Regions from separate parts of the Homo sapiens genome. Here region 1 is linked to region 2. A link means that fine-mapping ties the variant in region 2 to the expression of a gene that starts in the linked region. Tissue or cell type: Th2 cells. Region 2 holds a variant in brackets; the other region holds the start of a gene. All regions are shown on one strand. Distances are between the middles of the regions.

Evidence for each region. PIP is the estimated chance that this variant, and not a neighbour inherited with it, causes the effect.
Region 1: it holds the start of CDC7, and the variant in region 2 is fine-mapped to the expression of CDC7 in Th2 cells (Schmiedel 2018, PIP 0.95).

Annotation. Positions count from the first base shown.
Region 1 is chr1:91,495,748-91,504,124 of GRCh38, forward strand. It overlaps CDC7 (cell division cycle 7), which reads left to right and starts at 5,104. Exons shown (of 12, transcript NM_003503.4): 1 at 5,104-5,201; 2 at 5,907-6,084. The coding sequence starts at 5,970. It overlaps LOC105378856 (a long non-coding RNA gene), which reads right to left and starts at 5,101. Exons shown (of 3, transcript XR_947599.4): 1 at 2,768-5,101. RefSeq lists an enhancer at 5,746-5,945.
Region 2 is chr1:91,270,097-91,278,473 of GRCh38, forward strand. It overlaps HFM1 (helicase for meiosis 1), which reads right to left. Exons shown (of 39, transcript NM_001017975.6): 31 at 6,886-6,966; 32 at 6,532-6,647; 33 at 4,634-4,713; 34 at 3,616-3,719. Among named protein-coding and RNA genes, the nearest start is that of HFM1, 130 kb to the right of the region's middle. The variant A/ATT (reference allele first, on the strand shown) is at 4,889.

The DNA.
Region 1 (8,377 bases), 230 kb after region 2:
AAGTTAATCACCCCCTCGTAGAGTTGTTGCTCAAGTCAAGTAATTAATAAATGTGTATTGTTTAGAAGAGTGCTTGGCATGTGGTGAGCTCTATGTCACTGTTAGCCATGATGACAATGACGATGATGAGATTCTCTTACACAGTAATTGACATATATGCGGTCAGTGAATATTTTTCCAATGTTGTTGAATTTGTCAAATAAATGAATAACATGGAATAAGTGCTATTCATGTTACTGTGATAAAAGCTGGAGTACAGGTTGCTAGGGAAGCACGCACCCAGGAACTCAACCTATTCAGTTGGTGAGGCTTCCCTGAGAAAGACATGCTCCATGCTGGGTCATAAAAGATAAATATGAAAACTGTCCACTTCAGCCATTAGATATATATCAAGCTACTTAAGAGTGGAGTCCTCTTTTTAGTCATTTGCATATTACAAGTACCTATTGTGTTGCTGGGCACAGCAAGTGTGAGAAGGCATTCATTGAATGAAAAAATAAATTCAAATGTTAGGTGTCTTCCATGAGCTCTCCTAGAAGCTTTAAATATTATTTGGTTTGTGTAACAATCCTGTAGGCAGTTTTTTTCTGTCCTACATTACTAATTGAGAAATCAAACTTTGGTAAATTTGTGGACCTTTGAGTATTTCAAATTTTCTTGCTGTTTCATTGTAGTTTCAGAATTGATTCATACCTTTTAGATTTTTAAATAATTTGCAATTTTGTTTTTGAAATAAAAATTTTCCCCATTAAATTCTAAGTGTTTCGTCCTGGTATACTTTATAATGCCTGGCTAGAATTTCATTTTATAACCTAGGAATTTCTTCATTTACTTGGCATTGCCCTAAGAAATAATTTCTGTTCAGTTTCAAAAGCTGTGTATTTCCTTTACTTTATCTCTTTTTTTTTTTTTTTTTAAGACTAGGTCTTGCTTTGTCACCGAGGCTAGAGTGCAGTGGTGCCATCACAGCTCACTGCAGACTAAACCCCCAAGGCTCAAGCAATCCTCCCACCTCAGCCTCCCAATTAGCTGGGACTACAGGTATGTGCCACCATGCTGAGCTAATCCTTTTTACTTTTATTTTTATTTTTTGGTATTTTTTTGTAGAGACAGTATTTCACCATGTTGCCCAAGCTGGTCTCAAACTCCTGGACTTAAGCTATCTGCCCGCCTCAACCTCCCAAAGTGCTGGGATTACAGGCATGAGCCACCACACCCGGTCTGCTTTATTTCTATCCTAGGTTAATAAATTCCTTAAAGATAGGAGGTTCTAAGACAGTGTGTCAGCTATTTATATATATAATAGTGGAAAGGGGGATAAGACTTCCACTAACTTTTCCTTTGTCATTTCTTTCTTTCCTAGTCATTTTTTTTTTTTTTTTTTTTTTTTTGGTGTGTGTGTGGGGGGGCGGGGTGTGTCCTTTAGTAGGGACATTCATGGAGAGAGAGATGAGCAAAATTATTTGAAAGTTGTTCTGGGAACCTATTCTGAGTTCACCGTACAACTGACCAGAGACTCCCCATTTCTCCCAGAGTGAGAAGTTGCACCCAACTCAAATTTCCACAGGCCTCAAGGTCTCCAGTAGCTGGGCATCTGGTTTTCCCAGACAACTCTTAGAATCACTTGGCTTCTAAATGCAGATTACCTGGTGCCTAAGTAGTTTGAAGTCTACTAATAAGATTGTTCTCATGTGCTCCCTCTAAGACAAGAGGACACTTAGGAGGGCAGGATCCCTTTGCAATAGCACAGATCCACAATCTCACTGGCACAAACAGGTCCATGGCTTTTCTTGCTAACTCTGAGTTAGTAACTTCTTCCAGCCCATAATGGGTCAGCCGTGAGTTAGGGAAGGGACAGATCCTGGGCTAGGCTATCTAAAGAAAACTTCACTGACTTTGGAGGATGCAGAGATAGAAACAAAAGACAAAAAGACACACACACACACACACACACACACACACACACACACACACATGCACATGCAGCACAAACAGACCTGGAGGCAGAATAAACATGTTATGAAGGAAAAATGGTAAAGGCACTGGTCTGACCCTAAAGAAAACTGTGTGTATGTAGTTATCAACATCTCTAAATAATAATTTTTATTAAACAATCTATCTCCACCTCCAATCTGCTTACAGGAGACATAAGTGCAACCAACCATTTGAAACCTAATGTCTAGCTGAGCATGGTGACATACAGCTGTAATCCTTGCTACTTGGGACGCTGTGGCAGGAGAATTGCTTGAGCCTCGGAGCTATAGTGATTCATGATCATGCCACTGCATTTTAGCCTGGGCAACAGAGCGAGACTCTGTCTCTACTAAGTAAATACATAAATGAATGAATAATAAAAATAAATAAATAAAACCTAACTTCTCATTGTACATTAATTCCATAGCCATTTATTAAATCCATACTATGTGAACAGCCATGTGCTAGGTATTAGGGATGGGATCATTGACAAAGGGGGAAAAAGTACCCATTATAAATTAACTAATACAAGCTAACAATGTCCAGGCCTATGGGACCAAGCACTTTACATGTATTATGTCACTTTATCTAATTTAATCCCTATAGCAAAACCAAGCAAGTATTTTATCCATGTTACATTTTTGAAATAGGAGTGTCACAGATATTGAATAACTTGCCCAAGTTACACGGCTAGTATAAAGTTTATAAACAATTTGACACTGTAGCCACTATTCTATTTGTGCGCCCTACCCCCCAATAAAGACAAGAAACCAAACTAAGAAACAAACCAAACCTCAAGAGTTGTCTCCATTTGTAGATCTTTTGTTCGTCAATAAATTCAATATAGTCTTTCTGTCTCACTCCAAAGCTGCTCTTTCTGAAGGCTCTAATGACTATCTCTGATCAATTCTGTATCCTCACTACTTCTGTGAAGCATTTGCTATAGCTGACCACTTTCTTCTAATTGTAAAACTTTCTGCTCTTGACTTCTATGACATCACCTTCTTACCTCACAGACTACTACTTCTCAGTCTCTTGCTGGTTCTTCCTCCTCCTCTGCTCAACTATGAAATGTTGGAAGTTATCATAGCCCAACTCTCCATCTACAATCTTTGCTTAGATAATATCGTATAGTCCAAGACTAGGTTTCATCTATAAATTCATAACTGCCAAGTTTATTTCTTCACCCTGAACTATACCCCAGACCAATATATTCATCTGTTTCTTTGACATCATCACTTGCATATCTTGGACTTGATTATTGTTAACGACCTCCCGATAATGACCACCAGGAACACAACTATAGCTGAGCAACTTGGATGTATTGCTTGTTTCAGTACGTGAGAATGCACACCATGGGGAACCATGGGATGTCTTAGGAAGAGGGTGTTAAAAAGGACTTGTTATAGAATTTGAGTTTGTGTTAGGAGATTTACGGAAGGGTGCAAGAAAGAGGGACTTTGGCCTGGATTGGAAGCTGTAAGGAAGCAAGGATAATTCTATAATTGGGTATTTTAATAAGTATTATGTAGAAGGAAGGAAGACTAGACTGAGGTTAAAACTATAATTGGTAAAGAAGCAGCAGGCACTCATATTAGCTAGGATAAGGAGATATTTGATCATTTTTATGGCTTGGGCAATGTTGATGTTGTGTCTGTGTTCACATATGATTATAGAGTGATCTTACTTTTGTCTTGATCTATCACGGTCACAACTCTGTCTTGTCTGATGTTCTGTGAAATTGTTTATGTTCAACAGAAGAATACCAATGCTTGGCTGTGATTGCCAGGCCAGCTCAAAGCAACAGCAAACCAAGCTGGTAGTACCAGGCCATCTCCTGGATGTCAAGGTCTGCTTTTCTCTTTCTCGGTATCCACACTAGAATCCTTGATTTACTCTCTTCCACCTCACTCAATCAAAAACCATTACCTCACAGACTTCCCTTCTATGTGGCACTACCACCCACACATATGCTAGCCCAAAACCTAAGATTCACTGTTGATGATGCCCTTTTCTTCATTTTCCATAGCCAATCACCAAATCCCATTGTCTTCTTTCTTTTATTTCTTCCGCCATTGTTCTGGTCCAAACTACCATTATGTTTCTCCTAAACATAAAGTGCATCCTATTTCCTCTGCTTCCACACTTGCCCCTCTACAATCCATTCTCTTCATAACAGATAGATCATATTACTCCCTTGCTTTAAAACTTTCAAATAGCTTCCAATTGTACTCAGAACAAACACTAAACTTCTTACCCTGGCTTTCAAGGACCCTGGTCTGGCTTCTGCCTAACTCTCCACCTTCATCTATCTGGGACTATCTTGCGGCTCACTCACTATGCTTCCCCCACACTGGCCTTTCCTGCCCTGCCCCTGCAACATACCAAGTTCCTCTTTCTCTCTGCATTTGCCCTATCCTTTCTTTGCCAGGACAACAGTCTCCCTACCAGCTCTTTCTCATCCAGGTCTCTTTGAGAGGGCTTCCCTGACCATCTAGATGCCACCTTCCTGGTCAGTATTTCCCTCAAGTAGTAATCAATGCCGGAAAGAATACTGTTCATTTATTCATCCGTTATTGTCATCGCTTCATTGGAATTTAGCTTCCTACAGGGATGGTGTTTATCTTGCTCACTATGATTCCAGCCCCTAGAAAAACCCACCTACCTCATAGCCAAGGGCTCAGTAAATAGTATACACTGCCTTCCTGCCACTGTGCTAATTTCTACTAACACAGCCACAAACAATCAGCAATTACATTTTCTGCTTGTTTTTAACGGGGAAGTAGGGCACTCAACGAAAAGGAAATAAAAGCAGAGTCAAGAAAGTGCCTTTTATCCATGGAGTGCCCAATGTGTTGTGCGGCCGGCCACGTATATAGGGATGTGTCAGCACCTGAGATTTTTCCTTCTCTGAGCTAGCTTCTTTCCTGGAAATCATGCTGGGCCCTTAGCCTTATGGTTCACCCTGTTTTTTAAGATCATCCACGGGCTTCATTCCCGTAACCGCTCTTCTAGCTGGCCAAGGCGGCGGGAAGAAACCCCACCCTCTTGCGCAAACGCCCAGTAGCGGAATCCGCGGGGTCGAGGGCTTTAGTGTGCGCATGTGCAACCAGAGCGGCGGCGGGAAGTGTTGCGCAGGCGCATCCGATCGACTCGGTAGGTGGGGATCTCTTGGAGACGGCGACCCAGGCATCTGGGGAGCCACAGAAGTCGTACTCCCTTAAACCGTGAGTTTCCGACGGTTTGTTCCATGGCGCGGGATTGTGAGGGATTAGGAACGAATTCTGGATCGTGACTTCGGTTTTCTCGCCGTGCAGTTCCTTTTCCCGCCCCCCTTCGGATCCCTCCGACCTGCGGCGGGAAAGTCGCGCGCCTGCGCACTAAGCATCTGGTTCGGTCTCTGGCCCGAGGGAAGCCGGTCCTTCCCGGCTGAGCTCGCGGCCAGCGCTGGCCGGCGGATTCCCATTCATTCACCCTTCTCCTCCTCCGCCCAGTACTCGTGGCCAGGGTCGTATCAGTTCTCCGTCAACTTGCTTGGGGCCTTGGACGAGCCTCCTGGCGCTTCCTGTCAGTGGCGAAAAGGTTTTCTCCCTCAGTTCTTTTCCTGACTTCAAACCGCCCCCGGCGCTCGGCCCCTCCCCCACGCGGTCCCGCTGGCTGTGCCGGACTGGCAGCCTCGCCGTTTCCCACTGCGCCTGCTGCTGCGCGGGTGCCCAAGCCGGGAAATTCTCCCTGCAGCCCCCTGCCGGTGTTTCTGATAGGTGAAAATAAAGCACATGGAATTCCTTAGACAAGGCCACAGTATGCCCTACTGTGGAGGTTTGGACACATCGTGCGTTTGAAAATGTTTGCCCCTTTGGGGGGCAGTAGCATGTTTTTAGTGCGTGGTTTAGCGAGTGATCTAAATTTCTCTAGTGTTCTAATTTTCACAGCTGCTTTGCTCCCCCTGTGGATGTAACCCCTTAGCTGGCATTTTGCATCTCAATTGGCTTGTGATGGAGGCGTCTTTGGGGATTCAGATGGATGAGCCAATGGCTTTTTCTCCCCAGCGTGACCGGTTTCAGGCTGAAGGCTCTTTAAAAAAAAACGAGCAGAATTTTAAACTTGCAGGTACGTGTTTAAATCCAAAGATGTACAGTTATAAAGATTTTTCAGGCAACAATTCTGTGTTTTCAATTCCTCTCAAAAAATAAGATTGAATCTTATAAAGTGAATTGTATGTTTCTATAGGACAGTGTTAAAACAGAGCTTCGTATGATCTAAATGTAGGACTGAATTGCGATTTGGAAGACTGTAATACAACCTGTTTTACGGTTGAAGTTGCTATGGTCTCAGTATTGGTAATTAAGAATGCAGAAATTTGATGATGCCCAAATTAAATTTCTCTTTTGTATCTGTGTTCTTATCTCTACTCACCACATTGCCTTAAGCTTAAATGTAGAAATTGACACTGGAGATCATCACTTAAGTATTCAAAAGCAGAACTCACAGACAAAAAAATATGAAATGTTTGTAGCAATAATAAAGCACCATATCTCAGTGTACAGCATGAAATGTTCTTTGACCGTAAACCAGACCTTAGGGTGAATAAGACAGGGTCAAGCAGTGCCTGCTCTTGTACACTCGCATGTGTACCTTCATTTCTGCTCTGGCACAGGACCTGGGACATAGTAGGTATTTGTTAATAATAAATATTTGTTAAATAGAGGAATTCTAGTTGACTGTATTTTTTTTTTTCTGAAAGGGTAGCCAGATCATCTTTCCCATCTTTGTCTTAAGTGAATTCTGTGCTTGTCTAAAAGATACTTATTTTGACCTTTTGTCCATATATTCTTTATAACCCCACCCTAGAAAAATATGACATCACATACTTTCTGCTTTGATGGAAGTCAGTTATCCCACTTACCTAAACTTGAAACTTTAATCTTCAGCTGATGCTTTTTATTTGTTCCCCATATCGTCACCTAGCTTTATTTCTTTTTAGTAAGTATGGCATTGTGTCTTCTTTCCATTCCCATTTCCACCACATTAATTAATTTCCTTACACTTTGTTCCTGATTTACAACAGTTTCTCACCTATGCTGCCTGCTTGCACTTTTCCATTCTTCAGTTCATCTTGTATGTTGGTGCTAGAATAATCTTAAAATGCCACTTTCATCCAGTTTCATGGATACTGTTCCTCTTCCTTTCCATTTTTCCAGCAGTTAGCTGTTTTTTTAGTTCATCTTTCCCTTACTAGTCACTGGACACATAACACAGTAACACAGTCATTGTAGTATTCTTTTTCTATTGCTTAGGACTCTGCATTTTGTCTCCACTGTAAACCCCTTGGCGGCAGTATCTCCTCTGGTTTCTAAAGTATGTTGTGACTTCAGCAGAGTATCTGAATGGATGACTCTGAATTGGTTCTAGCATCATGTTTAGGAGAATGCCACTATTCTAATATTCTGAAAATCTGCTGGGAAGTAATGAATGGGGTGAATTTTATTACGGATTTCAAAAGTTTTGTAGCGTTTATGTAACAGAACATTGGACATTATAATATGATAAATTATAAAACGTGCTAAAACTTTACTCTTATGGTTCTTTTTTAAATATGATCTTAATAACAGCTAAAGTTATATAAACATAACTTCAATAGGGAGCAAAGCTGATGAGGTCCAGGCACATAACAGTCTAGTAATCTAATTGGGAAAGTAAATCAAATTAGATCATGAGACAGGTATATGCCTGCACCTCATCAACTTTACTCCTTATTGAAGTTATATTTTTGATTGGATGTTTTATATATCTTAGCATTCCCAGAGCTTAACAGTGTCCAGCACATAGTAGGTGCTTGAAAATATTTGAATGAATGATTTAATGTAAGGATATAAAGTAAAATACTTAGTGTAATGGATGAATAGCATGTCTCTTTATTTTGAGATATTTGTCAGATTTTTATAACATTTTTCTGATAAACATGATTATTGAAATTTTTGAAGTAAAGAAAGCCAAAATAAAGTCTTTTCCCATTATTGAAATATTGCCACTGTTGACATTTTGTTATATTCCTTTAGCCTTTCTAGGCATACATAGGTACATTTTTTAGAAACTAAATTGGGATCTTGTTTTGTTTTTGTTTTTGAAAAGAGAACCAGAATATGGGATCTTATTTCTGATCTCCATTTTTTTTAATATATATCTTGAATATTGCTCATGTAGTAAATATTCTACAACTGGATTTAAGGTCCATTGCATATTATATTATAATATATTCAATCACCTTTTACTATTGACCCTATAGATTGTTTCTATTTTTTCCTATTAAGAAAAATGCTGTAATGCACAAACTATCTGGCATAATATTGGTCAAATGTTTATTCTTTCACTGTTTTGGCAAGCTTTTTTTTTTTTTTTTGAG
Region 2 (8,377 bases):
TATGGATTGAAGGATAATGAGACTGAAAGCAGAGAGAAAAGTAAGTTATTGCAGTAAACAAGAGAGAATGAATGCTTAAGCTAGAGTATCAGCAGAAAGGATAGAGTGGAAATAACAAATATGAGAGATGTGCAGGAGGCAAAATAATTAAGATTTGGTGATTATTTACATGTGGGGTGAGCTATTTAGAAGGACACTTTAGCAGCTTAACAAAGTAAAGAGTTCATTCATTGAGCTAAGGCAAAAAGAAAAGGTGTAGAGTGAGGTAAGAAGAAGACAGAGTTCAGATGCTGACATGTCTGATATGTTAACTGTTAGGTGGATATGTCCAGGAAGGTGATTATACAGATGGATTTGGAGTTAGAAAGAAAGGTCTAGATGGGAGATACAGCTTTAGAAATTATCAAAACATAGTCAGTGATTAAAGACACGGGCTTGGGTGATACTGTATAGGAAAAGTTTTTGAAGTGAGAAGAATAAAAAAAAAAAAAAGAAAAAAGAATCCTTTTGCAACATCAACAGGAAGAAAAGCCCATGCAGTCTAAGAAGTAACAGGAGACCAACATAATGGTTTTACTGAAATCAAAGGAGAGATTTCCAAAAGAAAGGAAAGACCAGTAGTATCAAATACTATAGAGGTCAAAGAGATTAACAGTTGAAAACAGTTCACTGAATTCAGAACTTAGAAAGTCACTAAATGGCCTGAACAAAAACAGCTTCAAAGGACTGATACACAGAAAACCTAAATTTTAATGAATAAAGAGTAACTAGGGTATAAGGAAGCGATGAGCATACTGAGTGTCAATTGCTCTTTCAATTAATTTTTGTTTTGATGAGAAAGCAAGAGATAGAGGGTATGGGGACTCTAGAATTCTGTTTTTTGTCTGCCTGGTATGCTTTCCCTTCTTTTAGTGGGAGTACCCTCCCTTTCCTTTGAGGAAACTGCTTCTACAATTCTACTGGATCCTAGTAAGGCCGTTATTCATGGTGCCCTGCCTTCTCTGGGGCCACAGGTATACAACGACCCAATCGTCAGGTTACTGGGATTGATCAAGGGATAAACACATGACTCAAATGAGGCCAGTTAGAATGAGCTCTGGTCTGCCAAAACTAACAGGGAAGTCTACCTTTTTCCACTGAGGCGCTAAACTGGTAAGATGTAAGTTAGGGGCTACCTGCTGTGTGAGAAACCCTATTAAAAAGTAAAGCCAAGTAGCAACAGGCATAGCTAAAAGATTGAGAGAAAGCCAGAGGCATGAGTGCCTTGATTTAGCCAGAATTAAGCCAGATACTTTTCAGTTTACTTGAGACAATTGGTTCCTTTTCTTGTGCTTAAGTCATTTTGAGTAGAATTTTTATCATTTATAATAAAAAAGTCATGACCAGAAGCTGAAGAAGGAAGAGACTTCAGCATATTTATATGCTAAAGGGAAAGACACAGTGGAGAGGAAACAATGAAAATATGGGAAAGAGGAGATGGATAATGATCTTCTAAAGTCCCAGGGAAAGCAGGATTGGATAGAATTAAGATTACAGGAGGAGAGATATGCCTCGAGTGGAAGAAAAGATAAGTTTTCTTTTAAGACAAATAGATGGTTACAGATGGATGCAGAGACAGGGAAATATATAGTTGAGGGGTGGGGCAAAAAGCTGAAAGAGTTCATATACTACTGGTTCAATTTTCAGTTCTCCACTGATCACTAAAAGTCAATTTCATTTTATAGAAATGGCATTGGGCTGGGAATCAAAAGATATGGAATCTTTTTCTGGCCTTGCCATTAATTAGATATGAAATTTTTGGGCAAGTCATTTAATCTCTTGGAGTCTTGGCTTCTTTCACTATAAAATGAGAAATTGCATAAAGGTCCCTTCCAATTTAAATCTTATGATTCAACATGCTTTCTCATATAATTTGTGACATTTTTTCTTCTTCCCTTTTTGAAATTGGAATACAGAAGATAAAAACTGCCATGCTTTTTAAAAAACATTCTCAAAAGCAGTATTTGAATACATTTAAAGTATGTTTTGCCACCAAAGACTAATATGTGAAAAATATAATAAACATAATTAGTTATTACTAACAGTACCAGAAACCCTAACAGCTTTACATGCATTATCTCATTTAATCCTAAAACCCCTAAAATATAACCAGATGAGCAACTTAGACAAAGTGGTTAAGTAGATTATGAAAGGTTATACTAAATATCAGAGCTAGGACTTGGACAGATGGTTTTCAGATCCTGCGAACTTAACTACTATACCATGCAGCAACTTCTTAAAAAAAAAATGGCCCACTCAGTAAAACAGGGATAGAGTTATTATTGGGGGTTAAAGTATCTAGATGAGACTTTAATATCATAATATAAATTGGATTTGGAATAGTGAGTGGGAAAGAAAAGTAGGAAAACCATGTAAATATAACACAAAAGTAAGCAGAGGGAAGGATAGACAAGCTCTTGTATGCAGAAGGACAGGTAATAATGTAGTAATATAAGGAAGGAGTAAGTTAGAGGGCTACATGTTGAACAAAGATAAATATAAGAAGGTTGACAATTTTATACTTCCTATCCGCTTTGTAATGACATCCAGGCTTTGAATAAGTTGGATAAATGCTCTGGTTCTCCAGGTGAGATTAGGGAACTTTTCTTGATCTCATTATTGGGCCTAATAGCTGCCATGGTATCACAAGAGGTAGTGAATACTCCAGCCCTTGACTCTGTAAAATCTTAAATTATGACTAGAGGAAAAAAAAGTTACAACATGAAGAAAAAAAAATGACAGCATGAAGAAAAGAATGTCAACAGAAGCCAATGCCAAACACATGAAATGATTTTCAGAAAACCCCAAGCTTACCATTTCTACATACAGCCACTTGAAGAAATAACTCAATGGATAGGATTGTCTCATGTTTTAACAGACTGGCTATTAATAGCATTATTCAGGGAAATTATGCTCTATTAATTGCAGGAACCAGAGTAATGATGAACCAGGCAGTGTTGAATTTATATGCATTATCTCATTAATTTAATGACGGACACAGATAAAAAAGCAAATCTAGATTACAAACTAGCTATATCCCACAACCTAAGTTATTTTCTCATACTAACATAGAATTGTAAGAATCATAGGTTTAAGAATTGGAGAGATATTAAAGGTCACCCAGTTCAATACCTTCATCTTAAAGATAAGACTAAAGCCCAAAGAGATTAAATAACTTGCCCAAGGTCACATTGATATTTTGTAAAACTGGACTAGTTTTATAAACATAAAATTATTTTAAATAATTCTAATGATATATGAATGTAATCATTCAGTATGTTAATACTCTATATACCCAAGGATCCCTTATTTGCTCAGGTTTTCCTCATAGTATCTTTAAATTAAAATAGCATTATGTAGGAAAGAGATTTTTTTTTAAAAAGTACAACAAACAGAGTAAGACCATCTCAATAACAGACCCAAGAATTTGAAAATGATTCAGTAATCTAAGAGAAAAATGTTGCCAAGTTAATAATCATAACAATTTCAGATGCCGGTGTTTCAATAACACTACTCGTCAATTCAAAGTAATAATAAGCCATTTACTCTCTCAAGTAAGTATCAATGGTAATTTACCTTTGTCTTGATATTCAGATGGTTCTTGTCTAACTTTTCCATAGATTTCAGGCTGATCCCACTGCTCCATTATAGGCAATTCAGATATGTTTAAATATTCTGACCTTTATAAAGATAAAACCATGAAAATGTTAAAGAAAATATGGAAATTAATCTAAGCCTGAAAACTATTTATTCATATAAACAAAAATAATGATTTATCCATTTAACACTTCTATGATACACTGGACCCAGGCTGGGTAGCAAATAAATAGGTGTTTCATGGAAGTGACCAATACTTTCCTTTACATGCCCTTAGTTAGATAACAAAAGCCAGGATCTCTAGAAGTACTGCTGGCATCTATTCTGATGAGTCAGTTCCTGTTCTGTACTAGTTGTTAAATACATTGAATGTCATTCCTGCATATAGAATGCCCTTATCTAGCAGGGAAATTACATATATGATTGTCCTGTAGGCATCAGGATACAGGAAAAGAACAATGAGTTACCACCTAAGGCCTTCTGCTTGCTAACTAGGAATATGAACTTCAGTTTTTCCATCTATACAATGGGACGAAAAAATACCTCATTTTATGGGCCATGTTGTTGTTTAAGTCAGAAAATATAATGCACAAATGTGTAATTTTCGTATTATAAATCTGAGATATTATTAATATGGACTGAGCTTCTAAATGGAAAGGTTAGACTGTACACCAACATGATTTCCATTTTAAAGTATACTCTTGTCACTTAGTTTATATTCCCTATAAAGAGAGAACCTAAGGGAATGACAGAGGATAGGTAGTTTCCTAGGGAAGAGATGATCTAATGAATGTTATTTCATAACTGCAGAGTTCTAAATAAATTTAGGGTATCAAAGATAATGAAACCATTATGATGTTATTGCTTCACTATGGAACTAAACGATAACTGTGACTTGATGGTAGCCAGTGACTATCTTTCCCTGAATAAGTGGTTACCTGCAGGAACAGAGTTTACGATAAATATTTTACCTTAGATATTAACATTATATTTGTACCTTGATATACTAGGAAGGGAAGGTTTTGGAGTAAAACCAAACTCTTTAAGGTCCACACTTTGAGATTTATTCATCTGTATCTATTAATGAAACAAAAATAAGTTCAACTATCAGTTTCACATCAATAACTTGTAACACATGAGCCAAACAACAAAATTCCTGCTGGTACATAAAGTCCCCAAATCAATGAATTAGGAGAAACTCAGGTTAGTTCTTGACTCGAATATTTCACTCAGGCCCTTCTTAAATGTTGGC[A/ATT]TTTTTTTTTTTTTTTTTGAGATGGAGTTTTGTTCTTTCACCCAGGCTGGAGTGCAGTGGTATAATCTCAGCTCACTGCAACCTCTGCCTCCCAGGTTTAAGCAATTCTCTGCCTCAGCCTCCTGACTAGCTGGGATTACAGGTGCCCACCACCATGCCTGGCTAATTTTTGTATTTTTAGTAGAGACAGGGGTTTCACTATGTTGGCCAGGCTGGTCTCGAACTCCTGACCTTGTGATCCACCCGCCTCGGCCTCCCAAAGTGCTGGGATTACAGGCGTGAGCCACCACATCTGGCCTAAATGTTGGCATTCTTCATGGTTCTTTACTAGGTCTCTTCTTACACTACACCTTCTCAATCAAAGATCTCATTTATTCCTGTGGCTTCAATTGTCATCTACATGTGAATGACTCTCAAATTTCTACTTCTCGCTCAGCTCTGTCTCCTGATTTTCAAACAGTTATATCCAGCTGTCTGTAGGACATCCTTAGCTAGACATCTTGCAGGCCCTCTAAATTCAGTGTTTCCCAAGTTGAACTTATCCTGTTCTCTATTTCAGCAAACTTGCTTTTCCTTCAGAATATCTACCTGAATGAGACCCCACTTTTCTCCCAGTTGCTAATGCCAGAAACCTGGGCATCATTTTTGACTGTTCCTTCTATTTTGTCTCTTATAACCAATGAAGTAGCAAGGTAGCGATTCTACCTCTGAAAAATATTTTAACCCAGTCACTTCCCTCCATTGCTATTGCCACTACCCTAAACTAGGCCATTATTTTGCTTAGATTATTGTAAAAACCACCTAATGAGTCCCTTTGTTCCTATTCTATCATCCTCTAATCCCTTTTCTACATTGCAGTCAGAGTGACTTTTACAAAATACAATTTTGATCATGTCACTGGTTAAAATCTTTCATTGGCTTCTCAGTACTTTCATGATAAAGTCTAATCCCTTAAAATAGCAAAAAGGTCTGCATGATCTAGCTCCTACTTGCCTCTTCAGCCTCATCTCTCTCTACTCCTTTACTTGTAATCAAACTCTAGACGTACTGTATTACTGAGAAAGAGTTTCTTTAAAGATCCCTCTCTCTCTCTCTTTCTTTATACCTCTGGACCTTTGTATAATCTCTATGCTTGGAATATTTAGCTATCCCTTCCTACGATCATTCTGGTGCCTGCCCCTCCATCCTTGGCTTATCCTTCAGGTCCCAATCACATCTATTAGGAATCCTTTCTTGGTCCATCAAATGTGGATTGAGTACCTTTTCTGTCTAAACTTAACTGTGTTGTACTTCTGTCACAGAATCACTCATCACACTATATTAAAAAAGCATGTTTACTTACTTGTATCTCTCACTCTACTACAAATTCTATGATTGGGAATAAGACTGTCTTAATCGTCACTGTATCTTAGCACTTTGGCATATTCTTGGTGCTCAAAGAAGATGGAAGGAAAGAAGAAAGATTTAGAAGAAAAAAGGAAAGAAGAAAGAAGGGAAGATGGATTATGAATAATGGTAATATTCTTAGTCAAGCCCACAAGTAATTCTATAGTACACTGTGGATACCTAATTGACAGACAGAACAAAGAATATTTATATACGTTTAACTACAGAACAATGGGAAAAATGTTATTAAAACTAACCTTCAGACGTTTAACTGGAGGAACAGATGAAACAGCATTCCTGTTTCTTAAATCAGATAAATATGAAGAAATTGTTGACTCTTTAATTTCTGACTTCTGTGCAACTCCAATTTTACCTATGAAAAGAAACTTCAGATTCTTTAGGTTAAACTTCAGATCTTATTCTTATAAAGTCAAATTTCTTTAAAATTTCAAATCTAGTATTTACTTTTTTCATGTTGCCCACAGAGAGAAAATTATTTGCATTATTAAGTTGCATAATATAAATATCATACATAATTAGGATGTCATTACTATCCACCAAAGACCTTTCAATTTTGAACACTTTAAATAAACTTGTTTTAAGGAACTCACAGCAGTCATGTCCACATGTATGTTTACTTTTACAAAGATGATTGCATTCTCGGTTCCCAGGTTTTTTGCTGGCAGTCGTTCCTAAATTAATATAAGAAAAACAAATCCATTTGTCACTACATTTATTATTGTTAATTTAATATAATTAATTTTTATCCAGTTTCCTTCCTTTCAGACAATACAAAAATATTGATTTTTATACTTTCTCAAGTGTTTTGTAATCCACGTAATTTTTTTTTTAATAAAGAGATAGGGTCTTGCTATCTTGCCTAGGCTGGAGTGCTATGGCTATTCACAGGCATGATAATTAGTATTACAGCCTCAATCTCCTGGGCTCAAGAGATCCTCCTGTTTCAGCCTTCCAAGTAGCTGGGACTACAGGCACTTACCACCATGCCTGGTAATTTTTAAAACATATTTTTGATAAGTTACTCCCTGCCCCACTATTACTCCCAACAAGAAACATCTAGCCACCTACAAGCTTCTCTCAACCTCCCTGGTGTGTGTGTATAATCTCCCTGGTGGGTGTGTGTGTGTGTGTGTGTGTATACTTTATATATATATAATATATATACTTTAAATATGTATAATATATATACTTTATATATAATATATATACTTTATATATATACTATATACTAATATATATAATATATACTATATATAATATATACTAATATATATAATATATACACTATATATAATATATACTAATATATATTATATATACTTTATATAATATATACTAATATATATAATATATATACTTTATATATAATATATACTAATATATATAATGTATATACTTTATATATAATATATACTAATATATAATATATATACTTTATATATAATATATACTAATATATATTATATATACTTTATATATATAATATATACTTATATATTATATATGCTTATATATAATATATACACTAATATATAATATATATACTTTATATATTATATTTTATATATACTTTATATACATTATATTATATATATATAAAATAGGGCCAAATATGGCCACATATCAGTAACTTTTTTACTAAATGAGGTAAGAATGAGGGTGGAGTTTAAAAACACTTCTGTTGCTTTGTACTCAAGCCTGAAAAACCTGTAAAGAAGTAAACATTATGGCATTTTGATGGTACTGCTGACAGAAGTTAGTAAACAAGATGTAATACATATTTAATACATATTAGAAATAAATGCTTTAGGGATCTAAGAAATTAGCTATATGAATTTACAGGAAAGAGAGATTGTTTCCATCCTGACTCCTCTAAGTTAGAATTAATATATCTAAATATATGATTTACTCTTAATTTATTATATTTTAAATCAGCTTTTTCTTGATCTTAGCTCTCACTAGTAGCACGGGGAAGGAGAGAGATGTTTGAACTGGTCCTTGAAGGACAGATGGAAATACGAACATGAGAATGAGACAAAGGGAAGATATTCCAGGTGGAGGGCAAATACCCAAAAGCAGCAA